5 linked regions of the Homo sapiens genome follow. The protein of the gene in region 3 purifies or fractionates together with the protein of the main gene of each other region. This does not show direct contact. Each region holds a gene or a part of one and is shown on either strand. Other genes may lie near its edges.

Region 1 (4,614 bases), on a different chromosome or scaffold from region 3:
TCCTCAGGCCCTGCCCGCTTCCTGTCCACTGCCCCCTCCCCATCCCCAGCCCAGCCGAGGGAATCCCGTGGGTTGCTTACCTACCTATAAGGTGGTTTATAAGCTGCTGTCCTGGCCACTGCATTCAAATTCCAATGTGTACTTCATAGTGTAAAAATTTATATTATTGTGAGGTTTTTTGTCTTTTTTTTTTTTTTTTTTTTTTGGTATATTGCTGTATCTACTTTAACTTCCAGAAATAAACGTTATATAGGAACCGTCTGATAGCATGGCAGCTCTGTTTGGCTGGTGGAGGCTTCCTTTTCCCCTGCATAAGTTCTGAGGGGGCCTCACACACAGGTGGGGCCTGGGATAAGGGCCGGAAAGGGTCTTGAGAGGAGGTGGTTGCCTTAATCCCCCCCGCCAACCCCCTTATGTTAGCCACCAGCCCGGAGGTAAGGGGTGCCTGGAGGAGCAGGAGGTCAATAGTCCAACGGCAGAAAGGTGTCAGAGTGGAGGCCTCCCTCCCCGGCCCCCTCCTACCCCCCAGAGCGGCCTCGTCCTGTCTGGGGTCAGATAAGCCACCTAAGCGGGGTGGGGGGTAGATACTCCCACCGCACCAAGGCCTCCCCTTCCACAGTTGGCTCCTTTATCACTTTCCCTTCAGTTCACCCAGCGGGGACAACACGCAGACACCCGGTGGTGGCTGCAGGGCCCCCGGCAGCCAGCGGTGATAATGCAGGGAAAGGCGCCCCAACCTCAGCTACGCGGGCGCCCACAGGGCTTCTCCCCACCCCTACACGTGCCCCAGCGCCCTGGAGACCGCGCCTGGGAGCTACGAGCGAGCACCTTCCCTCGCAGAGATGGATCAGATTAGCCCCCTGGGGCGGTGGCACCTGCCCGTCCCCTCCCCTCCTCTCTTCTCCCACCCCCGCCTTCCCCCTGCTCTGGGCCCCCTGCACCTCCCTCTTGGGGCCCACGCGCCGCCCCTCTCCCTCGCTTGAGCTCTGAGCTCAGAAGGAACCTGCCCGCAAACCTGGCTCCCAGCCCCGCCCAGGGAGCGCGCGTCCCTGAGCCCAAGGGCCCCAGCGACAGCAGGGACTGGCTGCAGCCGGCAGTGCGGGGGTCCAGCCGGGGCGAGCCGGTCCCGCTTGCTGCACCTCCGCCTCGCACAGTCGCCGGCAGCCAGCTGAAAACAGCGCAGCCGCGTGGTGCCACCTGCTGGTCTCTGGGAAGGAGGAGGATGGGACGGTTGTTGCGGCTCTGGGACTGCCCCTGGCCCCGAGGGTTGAGAAGCATCTTGGCGCCGGGCCCTCAGCCGCCAGCTTCGAGGCTGCTGGGAGCAGCAGCTGCTAAGGAGAAGCCTGGGTCAGAGTTCTGCCCACCCGCGCCCATCTCCATCATTTCCCCAAACCTCGAGTCCCCTGCTTTTTAAGGAATCTGTGCCCCCTAAACTGGCTCCTTACCCTTCTGAGAAGCATTGACAGTATTCCAGGGGTGGCCAGCACCCTGAAAACCACAGCAAAGCGGGCAGAGTTAAAATTTAAGACTAAAAATGACAGCATCAGGCATGCACGCGGGAAGGAACAGAACAACCAGCTCCAGGGGTTCCCATCACCCAGGGAGGCCACCAACGCCCCAACCAGGAGCCATAGCAGCAAATTTATGAAAAAAATATTTTATTCCAAAACACTGTTTACACAAATGTGTGGTCTTTGTACAAAGTACAAAAAAACCCCTCTTCTCATCCCCACCTCCCTTCAGAGAAGTTTAAACCTTGGGCTCTCAATCTTCCATGGTCAGCTGCCCCTGACTGCGAGTCCTACAGCCTCAGAGGGAGGAGCGTGTGGGGTTGGGAGCAAGGCCTCACCAGAACACAGCCAGTTACGCAACAGCGCAAGGCCTGCTCCAGGCCCCACCTCCAGCGGAGTCAAACCAGATCAGCTTTTACCCCTCACTCCAGATTCCACAGGCACGCAGCACATGGCTGATTTGCAGCTTGTCTTTCACTGCAGTTTTTTGTTTTTGTTTTTTCCAGGAGGCAAGAGGACCAACCCTCCAAGTCCCGGGGCCCCTGTCCACCCACCATATCCTAGACCCAATCTTTTCTACCTCTTTGTCGACAAGGTTACAAACAGAGAGGCAAGCAAAGAAGGCTGGGGCCCAACGGAGGGGAGAGAATATATATCCCGGGAAACGTGGGCAACAGCATCATAGACTTGAATGAAGCCCAAGGCCAAGCAGCCAAGCAAGGACTAATTCAGAGCAGCTCAGAAACCCTCACTCAAACCGGCGGCCCCCCTGTGCTAAGGACATGGCCGGGCCCAGACGCGCTCTCATAGGGTTCACAGAGAGTCTGGAGTCCACGTTCACTAAAGTATAAAATACTACTCGAAAATGAACCCCAGCCTCCCTTCTGAGAGATGAATCGGTTACATCAACACATGAGGACAGATGCATTTACATAGACCCACACACTCTCTCTTTCTCTCTCTCTGTCTCTCTGTCTCTCTCTCTTAGGAGGGCAAAGCTTCTCACTCCGGAGTGAAACTTCAGCTTACAGACGTTACCTGTCTCCCCTCCCCTTCTGAATCATCTCATTCAAATAGCTGCTGAGCAGATGAGGGGCCCAGGAGGAATAGGTCTGGCTGCATTGAGTGCCTGCAGTGACAGAGGCTCGGTCTCTACCATGACAGAGACAGACTCGGCGCACTCTTGGATGCCATGATCTGAAAAGAGGCCACCGCTGCTGCAGCCACATCCCAGGACTGCACAGGGGAGGCAGGCGTAGCTCATGCACAAGGACACACACACACACACACACACAAGCACATGCATGCCTGCAAAGGTGTCAGTGTACACAGCCTTACTAAACTCACAACACGACCGCTTCACATTGCATATTGTTTCCAAAGAGAAGCGTGGGATTCAAACATTCATGAGAGGGAGCCTCTGGCAGAGGTGAAAAGACCGGCAGGGGGCGAGAGGCGGGAGTCAAGACTGTCCATTGGTCGGCGTAAGAGTTCCTCCACGTGCCTGGCCACATCCATGGTCTCATCCAGGTCGAATTCTCCATCCTGATCGAGTACATGGTCAGGGCTGGTAAAGACAGGGGGATGTCAGAGGGAGCTGGCATGTCTCACAGCCTCAAGCTCCCTGGGGACAGCCTCCAGCCTGCTCTCCACTCAAACCCGTCTCATGAGAACAGGACCAGTTCTGGCTGGATGCCCCCACCCCACCCCAAGCTGGGTAGCAGTCAGCCCACTGGCTTCTGCAGACCCCCACTCTATTCGCATCTCTTGCTAACTCACTGAATAATCTTAGGGAATTCATTTCCCCTCTCCGTGTCCTCATCTTAAAACCAGGTGGCTGACACAGTGGGCTCTGCCCACCTGCAATGATGCTCAGCTGCAATGGTAGGCACCGCCCCGTTCACTGAGCACTTAGAACAGCTGAATCTTTTCACTGAGCACCTAGAACAGCTGAGCCTATTGAGCACATGACTCCAATTTTTACAGCCAACTGGAGAGTGGGTATTGACCCCGTTTTATAGACGAGAAAACCAAGGCCATATCAGGAAGCTTGCTCTGGGCCACCTGGCTGGGAGGTGGTGGAGTCCGGATTGGAACCTGGGATCTTCAGTGGTCCCACTGGAAGGTGGTACCTCCCAGACATCCAGCCCTGGCTATCCACAGTGAGGAAGGGAATTAATTATCTACCTTGTTCCCACCAGACTCAAGAACAACCACCCCATTCATAGCTACCCTGTATCAAGCCCTTCCAAGCCCCTCCCTGTGGAAATGCTTCACCCACACTGTCTCAGTTTAATGCTCATCCCATTCTCATGAGGCAAGCATTCTTGCCTCCGTTTTACACATAAGGAAACTTGAGCATCAGAGAGGCTCAATCATTTTCCCAAGATCACACAGTTAGTACTAGAGTGAGGACTTGACCCTGCTATGTCTAGCTTCAAAATGCTCTGTTTTCCTGGCTGATCTCACTCCTCCTGGACTTGGGCCTAACCAGAGCTCTGGATCCTTTGCCCGCCAGCCCTCCAGGAGTCCAGCCTGGGGCCAAGTCCCCAGTTCTTCCCCTGCGGACCCCATGAGAACACCACCTACTTCTGTGGGTACATGTTATAGGGAGCCTGGGGGCACACAGCTGGGGAGGGGGCCTGGTCCATGTACGTGGCGCTGCTGCCCCCAGCATCTGCAGATGCATTCACAAACCTGCAGAAGGAAGAGAACAGAGCTTCAGCCACCAGGGAGGCCGGGGCAGCTGACTTGGGGAGGGGACCGAGGGGCATGTTTGTCTTTCTCGGGGTGTAGACGGACAAAGTGCCCCACTCGGCCCTGGGGCTCCAGCTACAGGAGAGGGGACTCCCTCCCCAGGGCTGAGACAGGTTCCCTGGGGGAGCGGAAAGCTGGGCCCAGGATCAGGATGGGAGGCAGGGTCTGGGGGAGGAGGAAAGAGGCAGAAGGAGAGCCACAGCCACCTGGACACTTACTCAGGGACCACTTGCTTGATCTGTGGTTTCACATATCCATCAACAGCTTTAGCTGTCAAGGGAAGAACAGTGGTGAGAACCAAAGTCTCTGGGAACTCCCAAGTGGGGTGGAAGCCCACGCCCCATGT
Region 2 (4,641 bases), on a different chromosome or scaffold from region 3:
ACTGGAACAATGCATATACTCCTGATGTTTCCAGCTTCACTTTAGATTCAGTGAACACAGTACATTTGGATGCTAAGAAAAAAGAGATGTGCAAGAGCAGGTCTCGTCCATAGGAAGCAAAGACTCAGTGCAGACAGAAATAGGGATGCACGTACTTTGGATATGAGGCAGACTGGGCTGTGTGTTTGGTCTTGGTACCTGGAACAGAGTATGAGCTCAGTAATAAAGTACTGAATGAATCAACATGAGAATAAGGAAGTGAGTGTCACAAACAGAGGACAGAGTTTTGTTTTGTTTTCTTCCCTAGGAGCAGGGGACAGTTATCAAAGCACTTCAGATGAAATGAAAAGCATGGGGAGGAATCTCCAGTTGAGGTGAGGGGCAGGAGAAAGTATAGTAAAGGGATAGTACAACACATATTCAGGGAACAGCCGGAAAGAAGGGAGACTGAGCCAGTACAATGAAGGTCCTTAAAAACTATTCTAAGGAATTTGGACTTTATCCTCAAAAAACAGACATTCCTTATTGGTTTATTAACAAGGGAAGAGAAGAATGATATGGTCAGGGCTGTGGTTCAGATAAAGTTATAGGCTACATTGGAAAAGCCCAGAGGCAGGGAGACAGCATAAATCTAGATGAACCACACCTAAGGGCTAGACTAGGGCAGGCAGGAGAGAACACTGGAGGAAGATAAAAGCCCACTCCAGACATCTCACCATTTATTTATGAAATGTTAGTGGACAGAGCTATCCACATCTTCCATTCTCAAGTCTCAGGACAAAAGACTAGAGCTTTCTGCAAGCAAAGGAGTACCTTATTAAGATGCGTCTCCCAGGCCGGGCGCGGTGGCTCACGCCTGTAATCCCAGCACTTTGGGAGGCCGAGGCGGGTGGATCATGAGGTCAGGAGATCGAGACCATCCTGGCTAACAAGGTGAAACCCCGTCTCTACTAAAAATACAAAAAAAAAAAATTAGCCGGGCGCGGTGGCGGGCGCCTGTAGTCCCAGCTACTCGGGAGGCTGAGGCAGGAGAATGGCGTGAACCCGGGAAGCGGAGCTTGCAGTGAGCCGAGATTGCGCCACTGCAGTCCGCAGTCCGGCCTGGGCGACAGAGCGAGACTCCGTCTCAAAAAAAAAAAAAAAAAAAAAAAAGATGCGTCTCCCAGTTGTAACATGGCAGAGTTTATAAAGGTAAAGTAAAATAAAAAGTTACAAAATCATCACATAAAAAGCATTGTCTGAATACACTGTCTACTGGCCCTGAGACTGTTTTAAATACTGCAGCTGTTAATTAGACTTATAGAGTATAATGATTTTAAAAAAGCTCTGGTTCTCATTGTTCTTATAATCAGAGAGGGTTGGATCCTTCTTGCTACCTTCCAAACAAACTGAAGTGTGTTAATTTTAATAAAATATTCTCCGAGCCCTTGGTATTTACTCAAATATAAAGTAACTGAGCAGGGTTCATTTCCCAAATGGTGACACCAGTGCCATCTACAAAGAAACGAGTTGTCATTCACTACTTGCTCACTATTCACTACAGATATTTTCCTAGACATAGACATTTCTACTTTTCTTGAGTTCAAACTCAGGTATGCCCTGGTTTTAGACATCACTTTTTCTGAGTTTGTTAAAAAGTCTGAAATATCAAATTACTCTCAAGATATGAGTAAAAAAACTACAAAGCAGAGTTCATTCCATTATTAACCATTTTAAAAAGTGGCCAACATGGCAAAACCCCGTCTCTACTAAAAATACAAAAATTAGCTCAGTGTGGTAGTGCCTGCCTGTGGTCCCAGCTACTTGGGAGGCTGTGGCACAAGAATCGGTTGAACCCGGGAGGCAGAGATTGTACTGAGCCAAGATTGTGCCACTGCAACTTAGCCTGGGCTACAGAGTGAGACTCTGCCTCAAAAGGAACAACAACAAAAAAAAGTGGTACATCTCTGTGACCTCTAATTTTCATAGGAATGAGAGTGAATTTAGACAAATGGATCTTGTCTAAATTCATATTTTCATCCCAGGTCCCTTTATTTCTTTTCTAAAAGTCAGTTAAAGCTGGCACCTAGAGAGAGATGGCATTTAAACCATATTCTTTTAACACCTGAATTTACAGACATTTTGCTTTAAAAAACCCCAAAGGAAAAAGCCCACTACAAACTTATAGCAAAATAAAATGTTACTTCAAGAAATTCAGGTCTTTTAAAAGATTTCAATACACAATTGGTATTAAAATTAAAAGTGCTGTTTTCTAGGGCTTTTCTAAATCATTCTAGTGTTTTTTTTTAATAAACAGAAGAAAATAGTTTTCTAATATTATTTAGACTCATTTAAAAGAAGAGTTTTAAATATTAAGAAAAGCTTACATATTTACTAGAGTATTGCTTATTAGTTTTCTAAATTAATACAATTTATTTGACTAGAATTTGGATTCCAGAAATTTGGGAGTCTATAATACAATCACAATTATCTTTTGGTACATGTTTTTCTTATTTGTATTTTTTTTTTTTTTAGCATACAATAGTTACGTGGCTAGAAAAGAAGCTTGTTCATAAAGTTCTCAGGCACTTTCCACATTTTCACTGGAAAAAAAATGTAGCTTACTCTGAAAAACCTCTTGGCATATTTGTACATTCAGAATTACTAAGAAATTCATTTCAAAGCAAAATCATGTCTCAGCGTGGAAAATACTTATTATCTGAAAATATCAAATTTTATTCTGTTGCCTTCTGCATGGCAAACTAAGTGAAGGAGGAAAGAGAAAAACATCCTGAAGAGTCCGTACAAAATTCATATGCACACAATCAGGAGTGAAACTTTTAACAACATAAAGATAACTTCCCAAGCATTTCACCAATACTTGTTATTCCCACTGCAAAAGAATAAAGCTCCTATTGAAGTCTATAGGAGGAAAGACTACAACTCAGTGGTCAGAGGGAAATAAAACAACTCCACCAATGACACTGGTCAATGATCTGCAAGCTGGTATTTTTCCCAAGAGAAAATGCTATTTCAGGTCCTAATATTTTTTAAAAAAAATTTGTAAGTATATCTATAATATAAATTTAATTAAAACGCACAACTTGAATGATCTCCAAGAGGTAAAGCAACAAAGTCAGTCTCAAATCCTCACATATCTTACTTCCACATCACAAAGGCACCACTCAATCTACTATTAAAATTCACAACAGATAAGCTGAAAACCAAGTGCCCGTGATATTCACTGGGCTCATTTTAGAAGCACCTATTTATTTACTCAGCTATGGTAGTGAAAAGGTCAAGCAAAAATTCACCTCCAAAGCCACGGTTGCTAAGCAACTCTCCTCAGAAGTTCTGCAACATTGATCAAGCATATTACTGGTGCCACCAACTGGATTCAGAATAAATATGAGTAACATCTTACCTGGTGTCTCCGAAGTGGGAGGGAGATGGATTCTTTATTTACCTTTTTGGACAGACTGGAGGCCAATCTTGTATTTATATTCATTTGGCTGGTTAGGCTCAGAAGACTTTTATTTTCCCTCTCCAAAAAAAAAAAGAAAGGATACGTCCTGGTACCACAGGTTTCCTATTCACAAGAGCGAAGGACAGTTCTGTTTTGAGAAACACTACAGAGGGCTTGATGAGATGTTGGCCAAATCTGAACGACATGTCCTCACAGTTGAAGTCTAAAAGAAAAGACAATGGATAGTTATAAAATTCAATTAAGAAACTCAGTTCATATACCACCTTAAAGAAAGCAAATTCCATTACTACAGATTCTTAGTTGCAGAGAGGATGCCATTGAAATTGTTCCTCATTGAATGTTCACCAAGATGCATTCTGGGAAAGTCTTTCTAAAATACTCCACTCTCCCTACCAGTGTTTCCTTGATTAGAGTTAGCAATTTTCAAGCAGAAGCTTCCACGTGGACAATAAAACAGCTTTTCCCCTTCACTCCCTCTGCACTTCACGGTGCCACCTTAACTCAAATCCACAAGGCCCTATTTGTCAGCTACTTATTTTTACCCATCTATTTTGTCATGTCTGCTAAGCTGAAAATTTTCATTAAGTATTAACTATAAACCTTCTAATTCTTAAATGCTTCTCTCAAATGGTTTTGTGTTCATATAATAGCAATTTAGAACAAGTACGAACACTGTCTGACCTTGCCTACAATTACAAAAACATGAGCACTTCCAGAGAACTATTCTAGTAAAATCTCCAAAATAAAGGAGAAAAAAAACATTTAAAAAGAAGGAAGGAGCAAAACGGAGTTCAAAACTAGAACAATTCCTGGTTGTAACAGGGCCACAAAGCAGCAAGGTACCTGAAATGTTCTGCGTCTTCCTTTTGAGGGAAAGCCATGGGGGGCCGGGGGCAGGAAAGGGAGGCTGAAGGGAATTTGGCAAATGGCACAGCTGAGACAAGCCAAATCCATCTAGCACCAAGGAATGACTTTTCAATCAGGTGGATGCCAATACATGACAAAGTTACTTTGTGAATGACTAAGACACACTTTGTGAATGACTAAGAAACACCATCCCTAGAAAACTACTTCATTTTTCTAATTCGGGAACAGCCTAGTATGAAACTGAGGAACATGGATCAATCTACAGAAAAACAGAGAAAGGATTACAAAAAGGATGAAATTAGAAAATA
Region 3 (4,641 bases):
GAATCAGAGCTACTTTAGCTCATTTGGAGCTGAATGTTTGTTATGTTACTTTGGCTTTTCAAATGGTGTCTTGTTTTATTGTATCGGCCAATGTTTCCTTAGGATCGGTTTGGCGGGGATGAGTTATTTTTGCTTTATTGTCAATTGTTGAGAAAGCATCACTCAAAGATAACCCTAATGAAAGTTGTTCCTTTTTTTTTTAATCTTGTGGTTTAGTTAACTTTTAAAATTCTAAAAATGCAGTGGTATTATAACTGCATTATGCAAATGCATAACATTATAAAGAATTTCAGGTTTATTTGATGATATTTCTCTTAGGAAGTGGAAACCTCATTTAAGTGAGAAAATACCTAAATGGTAACTTGTGTAGTATGTAGATGTAAAATGTGCTGGTGATGGAGTTCTCTCTTAGAATTAGCCCACCAGCGTTGGTGACGGACTTTTTACTGACCCATCAATATATTTACCTTCTCTCCAGCCCCACTCTCCCTTTATCACCTAACCCCCAATGAAAAACACATGTCTATGGGTCTCGGGGATTAGGGTTCCAGTCTCACTGACAGCCCTGGAGGTCAAATCTCAGATTGTAAAATGGAACCTATAGTGTTTGACTTACTTGCCCAGTGTTTCTACCAACTGAAAAAAATCAGTCACAAACATCTGGGAAGAGTAACGTTGTTAATACCTTAGTGAACAAAATCTGGGAGTGAGAAGATTCACTAGCAGAGAATAGTGGCTCAAAATCAACAGTTATCAACAAGAGTATTTGTGGTTATCATTACACATAATCTTCAGTTGTTGAAATGATACTTATATCAAATATGATCACTTTGAGCACTGCAATTTAGATGTTATTGTAATTATTTTCCAATAAATTGCTAAAGGATATTTGATCTCTCAGCTAAGGAATAAGCTTTTTCTAATTTTTATATAGTAGTTAAAGTGGAGATCTTGGGGTTCTAATCTTGAGGGAGATCTTGTGATGGTTGCTGTAAGAAATAGGTATTTCATATTTTATTTTAAGGCTTTTCAAGTATTTAATGATAAAGATGTCTGTGTGATGAGGATGAATCTCCTACTTAAAAAGTAATTTAAAAAAGCAAAAATAGTTTAATATTTAGAGGCCCCTCAAATAAATGCTTGAGTTTTAAAAGTTGTAGGAGACTTTAAATTTTTGAACAAAACATACAAATATATAGATATCTCTTTAATATTTGGGCAGGTTTTTTTGCTGTTTTTGGAGGGGGTGGAGAAGGGAAGGAGAATATGTTTTAGATAAGGAATATTTGAAGATTCCTGTTAAATCATTTTCAGAATAACAAATAATCTTTCCAAATCAAAGTAGTGTTGGTGACAATAGAAAATAGCCACAAAACAGCCTTACGTTTTTCAGCTGTGAGTATACAGCATTTGTGGAATTTATTTCTTAAAAAGATCAGCTACTTCTCCTTTCAAAATGGTAATTTTAAAAAATCAATATAATGAAAATTTATTGGTATTTATAAGCAATCCCTAAGAATATTGAAAATTAAGCTGATCTTCCTCTTTATGCCAGCATTCTGCCTTGTGTTTCCACAGTCTTTTCTCCCAATCTACCAGTATACTAGTCATTTTGAAATTTTGATAGAAAATATCTTTTGATAGAAGGTATTTATTGTTAGTGTATGTATTAAAATTTTGAGGTCAGTGAATCAAACAGTCATTCATTGTTTAGGAAAGATTTGTGGCCAGAATAAATGTTGGTCTGGGTAAAGTGTAGGAAAGAGGTGTGGTCAGGAAACAGTTACCTTACCCTGTTATCTGTTGCTTTGCTTTATTCTGTTAAATATTAGGATGTATTTATTTTAGGCATGTTTTCTTGAGATATTCTGCAGTTTGCACAATTCCAGAAGCTTTTCAGCTGTAACCACAAGACTATGTAAATTTTTTTTTTAGGGTCCAACCGAAGTGAGTTACAATCTTTGGTTTTTAATACCTAACAGCTGTTTTTAATGTGTCGGAGATCAAAAACACTAACCGGAAGACAGCCTCTCTTCTTCACCCCTAACCACACTTCTGCCTTCTTGCTCTTTAACTCTGTCCTTAGCAGGGCTGAGTGTTTGTGTCACTAACATCCACAGTGATAGATTTTCATCTAGGGTGTCAGGAGCATGGTGACCATTTGTGTTTGGGCTTAGGATGGGAGCATCCCCTTGGCATCCTGCTTCTTGAATTTCCATTACAAACAATTGCTTGTTTACTGCATCTGCTTCCCAAAAGTGTTAGGACTGGAAAAACACCTGGGGTGGGGGAGGGACCTGACCACTCCTTCCCTAAACAGTCTTCTGTTTGTATCTAACTGCAGACAATCCAGAGGATACCAGCTATGGCCAACTGGCATGCAGAGAAATGTTTCTGCTGGAATCTAATTATAAAAAGTGCATATGCTTTTGCTTATTTTTTAGACAAATGCTACTGTGTGTATCCTGGAACAGATTTTACCTATGACCAATATACAGTATTACCTGTTCAGGAGCACCACTTTCACCTACTCAGCTTTTTTTCTTCTCAAGGGGAATTTTAATTGGCAAATTACATCCTTCTAGAACTGGAATCCTTAGGGGTGTGAATGTGTCTATACCAGAAATCTTATGAATGGGTCTCTCACAGAATTTTAAATAAGAATTCTTAGTTCAGATAAATTGGGTCTAAGAAGAAAGCACCTATCATGACATATTTGGTGTCAGCGTGAGTTCTTAGGGCATAGTAAACTTTGGCTTGAGTTGGTCTTCTTCACAGAGAGTGAAGAGAAGATGCAGAAGCCTGTTAAATATTTTAGAGCCAGGACCCTGGAGAGTTTATTAAAAGCATACTCCCAAACCTTTCGTTCTCTGAACTTTATTTATGAAAATCCCTGTAGGCCAATGGTAAAGTATTAAAAGAAAAAAATAGTTCTTTACATCCCTAGTTTGGCTCTGGCAGTTGTGTGCCTGAACACCGTGTGAATGGTGAGCTTGGCCAGCTTTAATGTAGTGAAAGTTCCCACTGGCCTAATGCACTGTGGTTATTCATCTTAGGCGTCAATCTTCCATTTGTCCCGCATGCAACCCAAATGTTTAACACCTTAGAAAAGAAACATCTCATTTCTCTTCAGATGCTTGGGGAGGGAAAAGCAACACAGTGCAGGAAGCTGCAGCAAACGTTGCAGCTCAGTCACATCAAACCACAATAACACCTGGTCAGTGTAGCGCTGCAAACTTCATTGTTTTTGGTTCTTTGTGATCTTTCTAAGAGTCAATTTTTAGGTGGGAAAGGAAAGATATGGGTGTTCTCATTTCAGCTATCTTTTAAAATGTTTATTTTTTTAAAGTAGAAATTGCTATGAAAATGTTCCATGAGTTCTTTTCTAATTACCTTGTATAACTTAGTTCTGTTGTGACTTTTACCTTAAGGGAATCAACACTTTGGTTTCTATTAAACAGAATTATACCTATTATAACTTTGTCTTACCTACCCTGCATATTTGTACTTGCTTATAAACAGCTAAAATCTGATTTTGTCATTGTTCACATCTGGAATTAAGGAACTAAGTTGGACTTGTCTAATCAGTAAGCTTCTGAATGTACCACTGTACGTGACATTGTTGGATACCTTTGAAAATAATCACATAAATAATATTCAAGGATAGATGGAGACTAAGGCTTATATCTCATGCAAGATTTTTAAGGTAGAGTATCTTTTCACTTTATTGCAAGAAGCTATTGAATTTGACTTAACCTATAAATAATTTTCACTTTTCTATTTTAAGTTGTGCACTTTTTGAAGCTAAACACATTGAGTTTTCCCCTTCAAGTGGAGAATAAGTTTTAGAAAGTGTATTATTCTAACTCAAATGTATATATAGATGTCAGGAGAATGTGTGGGAAAATTCCTCAGAGCCCCCAAAGTTTCCTGTTTGATCCCTCCTTCATGGCATTGCTACAATTTGGGACAGGATCATAGTCAGAATAATTGGAAGCGCTTGCCATTCCCCCATCAAATACCTTATGGCCAGTTTGCTTATTTAAGTGTGCCAGGAAGCCATACTACATGTAACCCTTGCAGAGCTAATATTGCATTTACATGCCTGGTTCTTACTCAGATAGTTTTTTTGAAATGACCCTAGTAGTTTCTTCTTCATTGATAAAGACATGAGAACAACCCAAAAGATAGTCTTAAAAAAAAAAGACCACACACTAAAAAAAAGACCATTGAGCCAATCCGCAAAAATCTTGCTTTTGAAGTATTTTTTCCACTCCCATACAGGTCTTAGATTTGCTCTCATCAACCTCATTATTTTGATCGAGTCTTCCCTGTGGTCCGAGACCCTTATGTGATTTAACAGAGCAGAGGTAGGGTCTCACAAATGGGACTCTCTGGACTTGAATTTGTAGACTCACAAGCACTTGCTATAATATCAATTTTGTAGCGGATGAGTTTTTTTTTTTTAATGTTCTTTAGACAGAACCATTTGGGTTTATGTGATTGAATTTTTTTTTGAGCAATCAAAACACTTCATTTTTGACTCCTTTTGTTCCTCATTTATGTATCATAGACATGACTGGAATTTTATAAAGCTGATTTCCTTTTGATTTTGGTAAAAGACTTGGAATTTAAAGAGAA
Region 4 (4,641 bases), on a different chromosome or scaffold from region 3:
AGCGATTCTCCTACCTCAGCCTCCCGAGTAGCTGGGATTACAGGCGCCTGCCACCACGCCTGGCTAATGTTTGTATTTTTAGTAGAGATGGGTTTTTGCTGTGTTGGCCAGGCTGATCTCGAACTCCTGACCTGAAGCGATCTGCCTACCTCAGCCTCCCAAAGTGCTGGGATTACAGGCGTGAGCCACCGTGCCCAGCCAGTGAGCCCTTTTTGGAGCCCATCCTATCACTGACTCACTGGGCATCTGTGAGCAACTGCTTCACCTTAAACCCTGTTTTCTCATCCATAAAACAGGGATAATAGTGTCTATCTCACTGAGGATATTGAGATGGAAAAAATACACAAGTGCTTTGTGTAATGCCCAGGAGATAGGATGTGCTCCCCTCAAAATAGGCCGTCTGGGGTCACAGCGCCTGGGGGCCTGGTTCAATCACTTACTTGCTGTGAGCCCTGAGCAAGTCAATTACCTGCTCTGAGTCTCTTTCTTCATCTGCCAAATAAGGATTTTTACGGACTTGGCAACTCACATGGTAGCTGTGAGACTATGATTAATAATGAGTTAACATCAGTTAACATACTATTGATTAGCATGTGCCAAACATTGTGCTAAATGCTTTCTCAAATGGACCATTGAGAAATGGTTCATAATCCTCCCAATTGTGCCCTACAGGGAAGGTATAATAATTATCCTGTTTCTTACAGAAACGGAAACTGAGGCTTGGATGGGTCAAACAGCATCCTGGAGATCACAGTGCTACTCACTGCTGGGTCAGGACCACATCTGCTGACTTGGAGCCCAAGCTCTTAGCTACTAACTTAATGGTGCCAACAAGATACACTCACTTATTCATTCAGCATTTATTGAGCAACTGCTATGTGCCTGTGACTAAGCTCCTAGTAGGGAGCAAAACAGACAAGGTCCCTGACTTCTTGGAGCTTAGAGTCTAATGGAGAAAGTGAAGGTCAGAAAGCGATCAGTATTCAAATACAAACAAATCCATGACACTGCAATATGTGACTTCAAAGCAGGTGTTTCTCAACAGGTGCTGGAGAGGATGTGGAGAAATAGGAACACTTTTACACTGTTGGTGGGACTGTAAACTAGTTCAACCATTGTGGAAGTCAGTGTGGCGATTCCTCAGGGATGTAGAACTAGAAATACCATTTGACCCAGCCATCCCATTACTGGGTATATACCCAAAGGACTATAAATCATGCTGCTATAAAGACACATGCACACGTGTGTTTATTGCAGCACTATTCACAATAGCAAAGACTTGGAACCCACCCAAATGTCCAACAATGATAGACTGGATTAAGAAAATGTGGCACATATACACCATGGAACACTATGCAGCCATAAAAAATGATGAGTTCATGTCCTTTGTAGGGACATGGATGAAATTGGAAATCATCATTCTCAGTAAACTATCGCAAGAACAAAAAACCAAACACCGCATATTCTCACTCATAGGTGGGAATTGAACAATGAGAACACATGGACACAGGAAGGGGAACATCACACTCTGGGGACTGTGGTGGGATGGGGGGAGAGGGGAGGGATAGCATTAGGAGATATACCTAATGCTAAATGATGAGCTAATGGGTGCAGCACACCAGCATGGCACATGTATACATATGTAACTAACCTGCACATTGTGCACATGTACCCTAAAACTTAAAGTATAATAATAATAAAAGAAAAAAAAAACAGACCAAGGATCCAGAGCTACCTAATTACATTTAATAAATGATAATATAGTTAAAAAAACAAAAACAAAAACAAACCAGGTGTTTCTGTAAGAGTACGATGGGCTGAATTGCTGGGGGCTGGGGCGGGGTGGTGGTGCCTGAAGGACAAGGGGAGCCAGCTGGGCAAGGTGTGTGTGTGGGGTGCATTCCAGACACACCACTTGTGCAGCACTGGAACCACACCAGAGCTGGCTGGCCCTTCCCAGGGACCAACAGGTGGCAGCGTGCCTGGGATGAAGTGAGTGATGGAGGCGGGGGAAGGTAACTCAGGCAGCTGACCTAGCCCAGGGCCTGGCCCTCTCAACAAATGTGAGTCTTCCTCCTGCTCTACACAGTTTGTTTTTTAGGGGGCTCAGATTTGAGTCTTCAAAGGAGACTGGGCTCCAGTCCTTTCCGACTCAGAAACACATGATGGGTGGGGTGTGGTGGGGTGGGGTGGGGTGGGAGGTCTACTCTCCCTAAGGGTTCTGAGAAGGAATGACTGGCCTTCAGGGGAAGGTGGGAGAAATGGTTAGAAGCAGCATAAGAACACACACACATGCAAGTGCACACACACAGTCACCCTCCACCTTTTGAAAGACAGGGCCAGTCCTTTGGCCCGTGGAAAATCACTTGAACCTGGAGGCAGAGGTTGCAGTGAGCCAAGATCACACCACTGCACTCCAGCCTGGGTGACAGAGCGAGACTCCATCTCAAAAAACAAACAAACAAACAAACAAACAAACAAACAAAAAAACCAAGCTCAGAAAACAAAACAAAACAAAACAAAAACAAGCCCAGGAAGAGGACAGAGCTCTGCATTTGGGGGCCTCATCCACAACTCCTGGTCCTGGGACAAACTGCGTAACCTCTGCGCACTGGGTGGTTTCTCAAGGAACATTCTCCTAATGATAGAAATGGTCTGTGGTCAAGCCTGTCTGGACAGGCCTCACTGACTCACGTGGTCAATAGGAACGCAGAGAGGTGACACGCCCTCCGTGGAGACGGCCCCGTAGGAGGAGAGATGCCCTAGTCTAATGGGCACACCCCCTAATGTGGATTTCTCAGCAAACTCTTAGTTTCTTTCATAACCATGTGGTAAAACTGGACAATCACCCCTAGGGCACTGTCATTACCATACAGAGGAGAACACTGTCCTAGCCTGAGTCAATGCAGAGGTGGGAGGGTTCATCTAACCTGCTGCCCTCTAGATCTGGACTCCAGCTCTTTCTACCATACCATGGGCGCTTGAAACCAACAGAGCCAAGATGGGGGTGAGCAGAGGTGGTGGAGAGCAGGAGAGAAAAGCTCAGACTCTGAGTTCAAATCCCACTCTGCCAGCACTAGCTGTGTGGCCCTGGGCCAGCCATTTGACCTCTCGGGGCTCAGCTTCCTCATGTTAAAATGGCCACTATGACACCTCTCACCTCACAGGGAGGTGGTGAGGTCTCAGTGAGAGAAGCCACGTCCCTGTCCTGCCGTGCGGGAGGGACACTGGCCAGGTAAGGACCATGGTTACCTGTTGACGCAATCCCCGTCCTTCAGCGGGTTTGGGATCTCCTCGCACACAGTCAGGAGGGCTGCTGCCAGACACACCGAGTAGGCGGCGCTGGAGCCCAAGCCCGCCCCGGGGGGCAGCTCCGACCACACTACGATATCCAGGCTCGGCAGGGCCCTGAAACACACCAGGGTGTGAAACGTGACTCTCCCGCAGGGCAGTGGGGTGCCAGCACTGAACCAGGGGCCAGGCCCAGGCCTGACTCCAAGCATCTGGTCCAGTTTTCTCAACTGGGGGAGAATTCCTGACCCCAAATGTATCCCTATTGAACATCAGGAACTCATGCTGAATCAGACAACTAGAAAACAGGTATCAAGTTCATTTAAATCCCTGGGTCATTCAACCAGAGCCCTTCCCAGAAGCACCTGGCAAGCTGTCAACCCCTTTCTCCCACCTCCTTCCTGTGCCCACATGCTAGGCTTTTCTGTGGGCCTGCTCTGAGCACAGGCTGGCCCCTCTGCCTGCAATAGCCGTGCACCTCCTTATCCCACAGAGAAATCCCTACCCATCTCTCAAGGCCTTATCAAATGTCGCTTCCACTGTGACACTTTCCGTAGCTGCCCACAAAGACCCTCCTGGCTCCCCTTCTAGGACCCCCGCCTGCCCTCCCTCCCTCCACCGCTGCCTCACCACCGCACACTAGGATTGTGTGTTCACCGGGGCCTCTCCCGCCAGACGGTGCTCCCCAACCATGTGTAACACGGGTCTGCTTTTGATCACCAGAAAGGTCCGAATCGCTACATCTTACATGTATTTCCCCCAAGCAAGAACTGTCAAACTTCATGTTTGGTAATTTCCACGAAGTGCTTTTCCCATTTCCCAAATAGAAAAATTGTAATAATGTGCGTCTTCAAATTCCACGTACCCACCCCACCCAGCCTGGAAGATTCTGGAATGCCCCTCACCCACTTAAGGGGACATGCCTCTCTCAAGTTGAAATTCTGCTTCGGACGGCAAGTATCAGGCCGTTTCCGAATGTGTCCTCAGCATAGAGCCTGGCCACTGAGCCAGCATCTGCTGCTCAAGGGAAGGGCTGCCCCCTTGAGGTTTTTTTCCCTTTGGGTTCTGGACAAAAACAAAAACAACAAAAACAACAACAGAGAGGCTGGGGCCGGGTGCAGTCGCTCATGCCTCTAATCCCAGCACTTTCAGAGGCCAAGGCAGTTGGATCACATGAGCCCAGGAGTTTGAGACCAGCCTGGGCAACACAGTGAGACTCCATCTCTACAAAAATTTAAAAATTTAGCCAGGCATGGTGGTGCGCACCTGTAGTCCCAGCTACTTGGAAGGCTGAGGTGGAAGGATCACTTGAGCCTGGGAGGTCGAGGCTGGAGTCAGCTGAGATCATAC
Region 5 (4,641 bases), on a different chromosome or scaffold from region 3:
TCAACCTCCCTGAAACTCAGCTGCAGCTGAGAATGGGTATAGATAATATCTATCCTGTAGGGTTGTTGTAAAGATTAAAACAGTGTTTGGAAAGAGCCCAGCACAGTGTCTGGAAAATGGGAAATACTAGATAGTAGCCATTATCATTGTTGTTGTTGTAAATATTATTTAGAAGGAGCTTTTGATAAATAGGTGAGAGGTTATTTTTAAAAAGCCATAAACTCTGGATTTTAAAATCAAACTCTCTTAGCTGGGACCCAGTGGCAGGAGCCCAGAGAGTGAAGCACTAGGTAAGTGCTAAGGGAGGAGCTTTTGCATTCATACACTCTCCATCAGGAAGTTGATGCAGGAGGCAGAAGGAAGGCTTAACAAGCCACAGGGAGGTAGAGTGGGGGCTGAGAGGGTAGGGAACATATTTTTCTTGCTATTAAATTCCAGAAAGGCAAAAACTCAGAGCAAACTATTTTTATCACGTATTTATTTATTTATTTTTTGGATGGAGTTTCACTCTTGTTGCCCATACTGGAGTGTAATGGTACCATCTCAGCTCACTGCAACCTCCGCCTCCTGGATTCAAGTTATTCTCCTGCCTCAGCCTCCCGAGTAGATGGGATTATAGACATGCACCACCACGCCTGGCTAATTTTGTATTTTTAGTAGAGATGTGGTTTCTCCATGTTGGCCAGGCTGGTCTCAAACTCCCGACCTCAGGTGATCTGCCTGCCTCGGTTGCCTGTTCACTCTGATGGTGGTTTCTCCCAACATGCTGGGATTACAGGCATAAGCCACCGCACCCAGCCTTGATCAACTCTTTAAAACTCCTCTCACTTGGGCTAAGACATGTGATTTGATTATCCTGATTTTCTTTCTTTCTTTTTTTTTTTTTGAGACAGACTCTCACTCTGTTGCCTAGGCTGTAGTGCAGTGGCACGATGTCGGCTCACTGCAACCCCTGCCTCCTGGGTTCAAGCGATTCTCCTGCCTCAGCCTCCCTAGTAGTTGGGATTACAGGCACGCACCACCACGCCTGGCTAATTTTTGTATTTTTAGTAGAGACGAGGTTTCACCATATTGGCCAGGCTTGTCTCGAACTCCTGACCTCGTGATCCACCCACCTCAGCCTCCCAAAGTGCTGGAATTACAGGCATAAGCCACCATGCCCGGCCTGATTATCCTGATTTTCTGATCAATGTTTTAGAGATGAATCAGTGTATGAACACTTTTCCTATTGTAAGAAAAGAACAAGTTGAGATGCTAGGATTCCCATCTCTTTCACAGGGAGAAAAAGCAGCTGCACCATGAAAGAGTCCTGGTGCCCAACCTCTCCTCTACCTCCCCATCTTCCCAAAACTCATCTTAGCTTGTGACTGTCTTGCCTGAGCTGAGGAAAAATCCCTGGGAGATGGATGCCACATGTGGAAGAAATCCCAGCACAAAATAGATGAAAAGACTAGGCCTGGCTTACCTGGCCAATCGGACATTGTCACTATCATCTTTGCCCCACTCCCAGCCCTTTCCAGGGTCCACAGCAAAGTGCAAGGGCAGCAGCTTATACTCTGAATCTGTAAGTGGGATCACAGCTGGAGAGGAAGAAACATATCATCAAGGAATCTCCTTAAGAGAGAAAGGTAACTGAACACAGACTTATTTCACTAAAATCATACTAAGGTCTTTAATTGTAGTCACTTCTCAATTCTTACACGTGAATTACCCCGGTATTAAAACTAATTGGCTAGTTTTCCCGCTACCACGCAGCATATGTTTTAGGCCACAAATCTCCCTGAGTCCCCACCAGTCAGTCAACTAACTCTCATGATGTTCTTTCCAGTTAATGTATATTCAGAGAATTCAGTCATAATTTAAGACAAATTAGAAAAGCATCATTTAGAAGCTCTTACACCTTAATCATAAGCCTTTACTCCAGAAGAGGGTATATAGGTCTTGCTTTTCTCCCAACCCTTTTTTTTTTAATTTGAAAACTCTGGCGTAACTTCTGGCTTAATAAAACAGTATCAACATGTGCTGTCTGGGCTTGCATGTCACTTAATTCTTTCCTCCTACATTAGATCTCATTCAATTTTTTCAAGTGAAAATAATGCAGACCAAAAGACATGTCATTCAGCACCTTGTTCCTTGGTATTCTCCTTCTGCTCCATGGACACGAGTGCAGAAAAGTGGGCCTGATCATAGGCGAGCACCAGAGGGGAGCGGTGACACTGGCTGGCTGGGACCTCCAAAGGCAGATAGATTCCTCCAAAGGGAATAGGGGCAAATGCTGCAGGAAGCCATGAAGATTATTATGAAGGCTGTGTTTCTGCCTAGTGGACAATCCCTACATCCCACTCTGCCAACTGAGTCCCTCCCTGCTTTCATTCCAACATGTTTAATAATTCTTTCCTAAGAAGCCCTGTCAACTAATCCCAACTGCTTTACTCAGAATCTCTTGAGAATTTTGCACTATTCTAATTGATAACTTGCTTTTTCCCCAAGGGTCTATATATCCCCTTTCCTGCCTTCCTTCCAATGCTTAGCCTAAGGCTTTGCAAAAGGGGGTGCTCAGCATGGAGTGAGGACTGACTGGCTGACTCACCTTCCCCTCCGGAGTCCCTCAGCATGGTGTCTGCCACGACGACTATGGGCCTCCTAAGCACATGAGCAAGGACAAAGACGTGAAACTCTTCAAGGCTCTCATATACAGGCTCCTCAGAACTCTCCACCCTGGAACGACGGGAAGGGAGAGAGTGAAAAGGGTGCAGTAAAAATGAGAGAGTAGAAACAGGAGACCCTGAAGACCAGTTCTGCAGAAAGGGAAAAGAAGAATGTCCTTTCCTGGTTTTCCAATCTTAAGGCTGCCACTGATATAGCTGATTATTTTATGCTACCATGGCTGTTTCTACCTCCGTTTTCACAGATGGGGAAATCCAAGAAAAGAGATTTGAAGGCTCTAGGGTTAAAGCAGTGTTAGGAATTTGGAGGTAATCCCTATCTCTTAATATTCTTCCTGTTCAATAGCCTCTCTCCATTCTCTTCATCCAGTAGCTCAATACACAACTGCATAGCTTCATCCTACTTATTTTATATACTACAGCCACCCACACATCACACTCATGTCTTACAAAAACAGCCAAACACAATTCCTTTCCTATGTTCCTTTCCTCACTGAAAGAACAGCTTCACCATCTATCCAGTAGCATAATCAGAAATTTGGAAATATTTATTGTGCTTTTATCTCTCACCTTCCAGTAGTCACGTGATTTAACCAATTCCATCTCCCGTGTGTTTTTTGTTTTTTTTTCTTTTTTTTTTTTGAGATAGAGTCTCGTTCTGTCCCCCAGGCTGGAGCAGTGGCGCGATCTCGGCTCACTGCAAGCTCTGCCTCCCAAGTTCACGCCATTCTCCTGCCTCAGCCTCCCGAGTAGCCGGGACTACAGGCACCCGCCACCTCGCCCGGTCTAATTTTTTGTACTTTTTGTATTTTTTTTTTTTTTTTTTTTTTGTAGATGGAGTCTCACTCTTTCGCCCAGACTGGAGTGCAGTGGTGCGATTTGGGCTCACTGCAAGCTCCACCTCCTGAGTTCAGGCAATTCTCCTGCCTCAGCCTCCCGAGTAGCTGGGACTACAGGTGCCCACCACCATGCCTGGCTAATTTTTTTGTATATTTAGTAGAGATGGGGTTTCACCGTGGTCTCGATCTCCTGACTTCGTGATCCGCCCGCCTCGGCCTCCCAAAGTGCTGGGATTACAGGCGTGAGCCACTGTGCCTGGCAATTTTTTAAATTTTTAGTAGAGACGGGGTTTCACCGTGTTGGCCAGGATGGTCTTGATCTCCTGACCTCGTGATCCGCCCGTCTCAGCCTCCCAAAGTGCTGGGATTACAGGTGTGAGCCACTACGCCTGGCCTTCCTGTGTGTTTCTTTTATCTGTCTCCCGGGCTTATCTTTAGTCTACCACACTGTTCATCCATGGCCCTTTCCTGGATTACTACAACTGCATCTTATCCCACTCCTTTCCACTTCATTATCCACTGGAGTCAGCGTGTTCAAATACGGAGGGACAAATTTGCTCCTGTCATTCACATACTCAATATTCAATGGCTTCCACCCCCTAAAGCAATTTTATTCAATATTGGATGCTGATTACAAACAAGGATTTCTGGGCCTTACCTCTGTCCAACTCAACTGGACTTTTCTGGGGTGGAGGTCCAGAAATCAGCTTTTTAAATAACTCTCCCAGATTATTCTTATGTACAATAAAATCTGCATAGGTTATAATTTTTAACCATTATGGAAAATTTCAAAATTTTAAACATATTCAATACTAGAAATGATAATATACTAAACACTCATGTATCCATCACCCAGCTTTAACAATTATAAACACATGGTCAACCTTTTTTTTTTTAAACAGAAAGTTTATTACAGCATATTACAGGCTTGTGTCAGTACTAAATTGATCAATAAACAGATTCTAGCCTGCACTTTCAGGAATGCACCCAAAGCTACTCCTCAGATCTAGAGTAGCATGGGAACTGCTTGCTGCTCCTGCACTAATTTTTTTTTATTATACTTTAAGTTCTAGGGTACATGTGCACAATGTGCAGGTTTGTTACATAAGTATACATATGCCACGTTGGTGTGCTGC

The links.
Region 1: the proteins of LEF1 (region 3) and STAT5A purify together in Homo sapiens (affinity purification with western blotting, with the first as the bait; one study listed by BioGRID). This does not show direct contact.
Region 2: the proteins of LEF1 (region 3) and FHIT purify together in Homo sapiens (affinity purification with western blotting; one study listed by BioGRID and IntAct). This does not show direct contact.
Region 4: the proteins of LEF1 (region 3) and MVK purify together in Homo sapiens (affinity purification with mass spectrometry; one large-scale study listed by BioGRID and IntAct). This does not show direct contact.
Region 5: the proteins of LEF1 (region 3) and OTUD7B purify together in Homo sapiens (affinity purification with western blotting; one study listed by BioGRID). This does not show direct contact.

The regions. Positions count from the first base shown.
Region 1 is NC_000017.11:42,308,971-42,313,584, reverse strand, and holds the end of STAT5A (signal transducer and activator of transcription 5A), read right to left. Parts: intron 4,539-4,614; coding exon 4,487-4,538; intron 4,209-4,486; coding exon 4,101-4,208; intron 3,079-4,100; coding exon 2,916-3,078; coding exon of another isoform or gene 2,855-2,915; 3' UTR 1,642-2,854; downstream 1-1,641. UniProt on the Homo sapiens protein: Carries out a dual function: signal transduction and activation of transcription. Mediates cellular responses to the cytokine KITLG/SCF and other growth factors. Mediates cellular responses to ERBB4.
Region 2 is NC_000003.12:60,533,312-60,537,952, forward strand, and holds part of FHIT (bis(5'-adenosyl)-triphosphatase), read right to left. Parts: intron 3,669-4,641; 5' UTR 3,652-3,668; coding exon 3,549-3,651; intron 1-3,548. UniProt on the Homo sapiens protein: Possesses dinucleoside triphosphate hydrolase activity. Cleaves P(1)-P(3)-bis(5'-adenosyl) triphosphate (Ap3A) to yield AMP and ADP. Can also hydrolyze P(1)-P(4)-bis(5'-adenosyl) tetraphosphate (Ap4A), but has extremely low activity with ATP.
Region 3 is NC_000004.12:108,158,549-108,163,189, reverse strand, and holds part of LEF1 (lymphoid enhancer-binding factor 1), read left to right. Parts: intron 1-4,641. UniProt on the Homo sapiens protein: Transcription factor that binds DNA in a sequence-specific manner. Participates in the Wnt signaling pathway. Activates transcription of target genes in the presence of CTNNB1 and EP300.
Region 4 is NC_000012.12:109,580,162-109,584,802, reverse strand, and holds part of MVK (mevalonate kinase), read right to left. Parts: intron 3,409-4,641; coding exon 3,253-3,408; intron 1-3,252. UniProt on the Homo sapiens protein: Catalyzes the phosphorylation of mevalonate to mevalonate 5-phosphate, a key step in isoprenoid and cholesterol biosynthesis.
Region 5 is NC_000001.11:149,947,504-149,952,144, forward strand, and holds part of OTUD7B (OTU domain-containing protein 7B), read right to left. Parts: intron 2,719-4,641; coding exon 2,591-2,718; intron 2,276-2,590; coding exon 2,126-2,275; intron 1,581-2,125; coding exon 1,466-1,580; intron 1-1,465. UniProt on the Homo sapiens protein: Negative regulator of the non-canonical NF-kappa-B pathway that acts by mediating deubiquitination of TRAF3, an inhibitor of the NF-kappa-B pathway, thereby acting as a negative regulator of B-cell responses.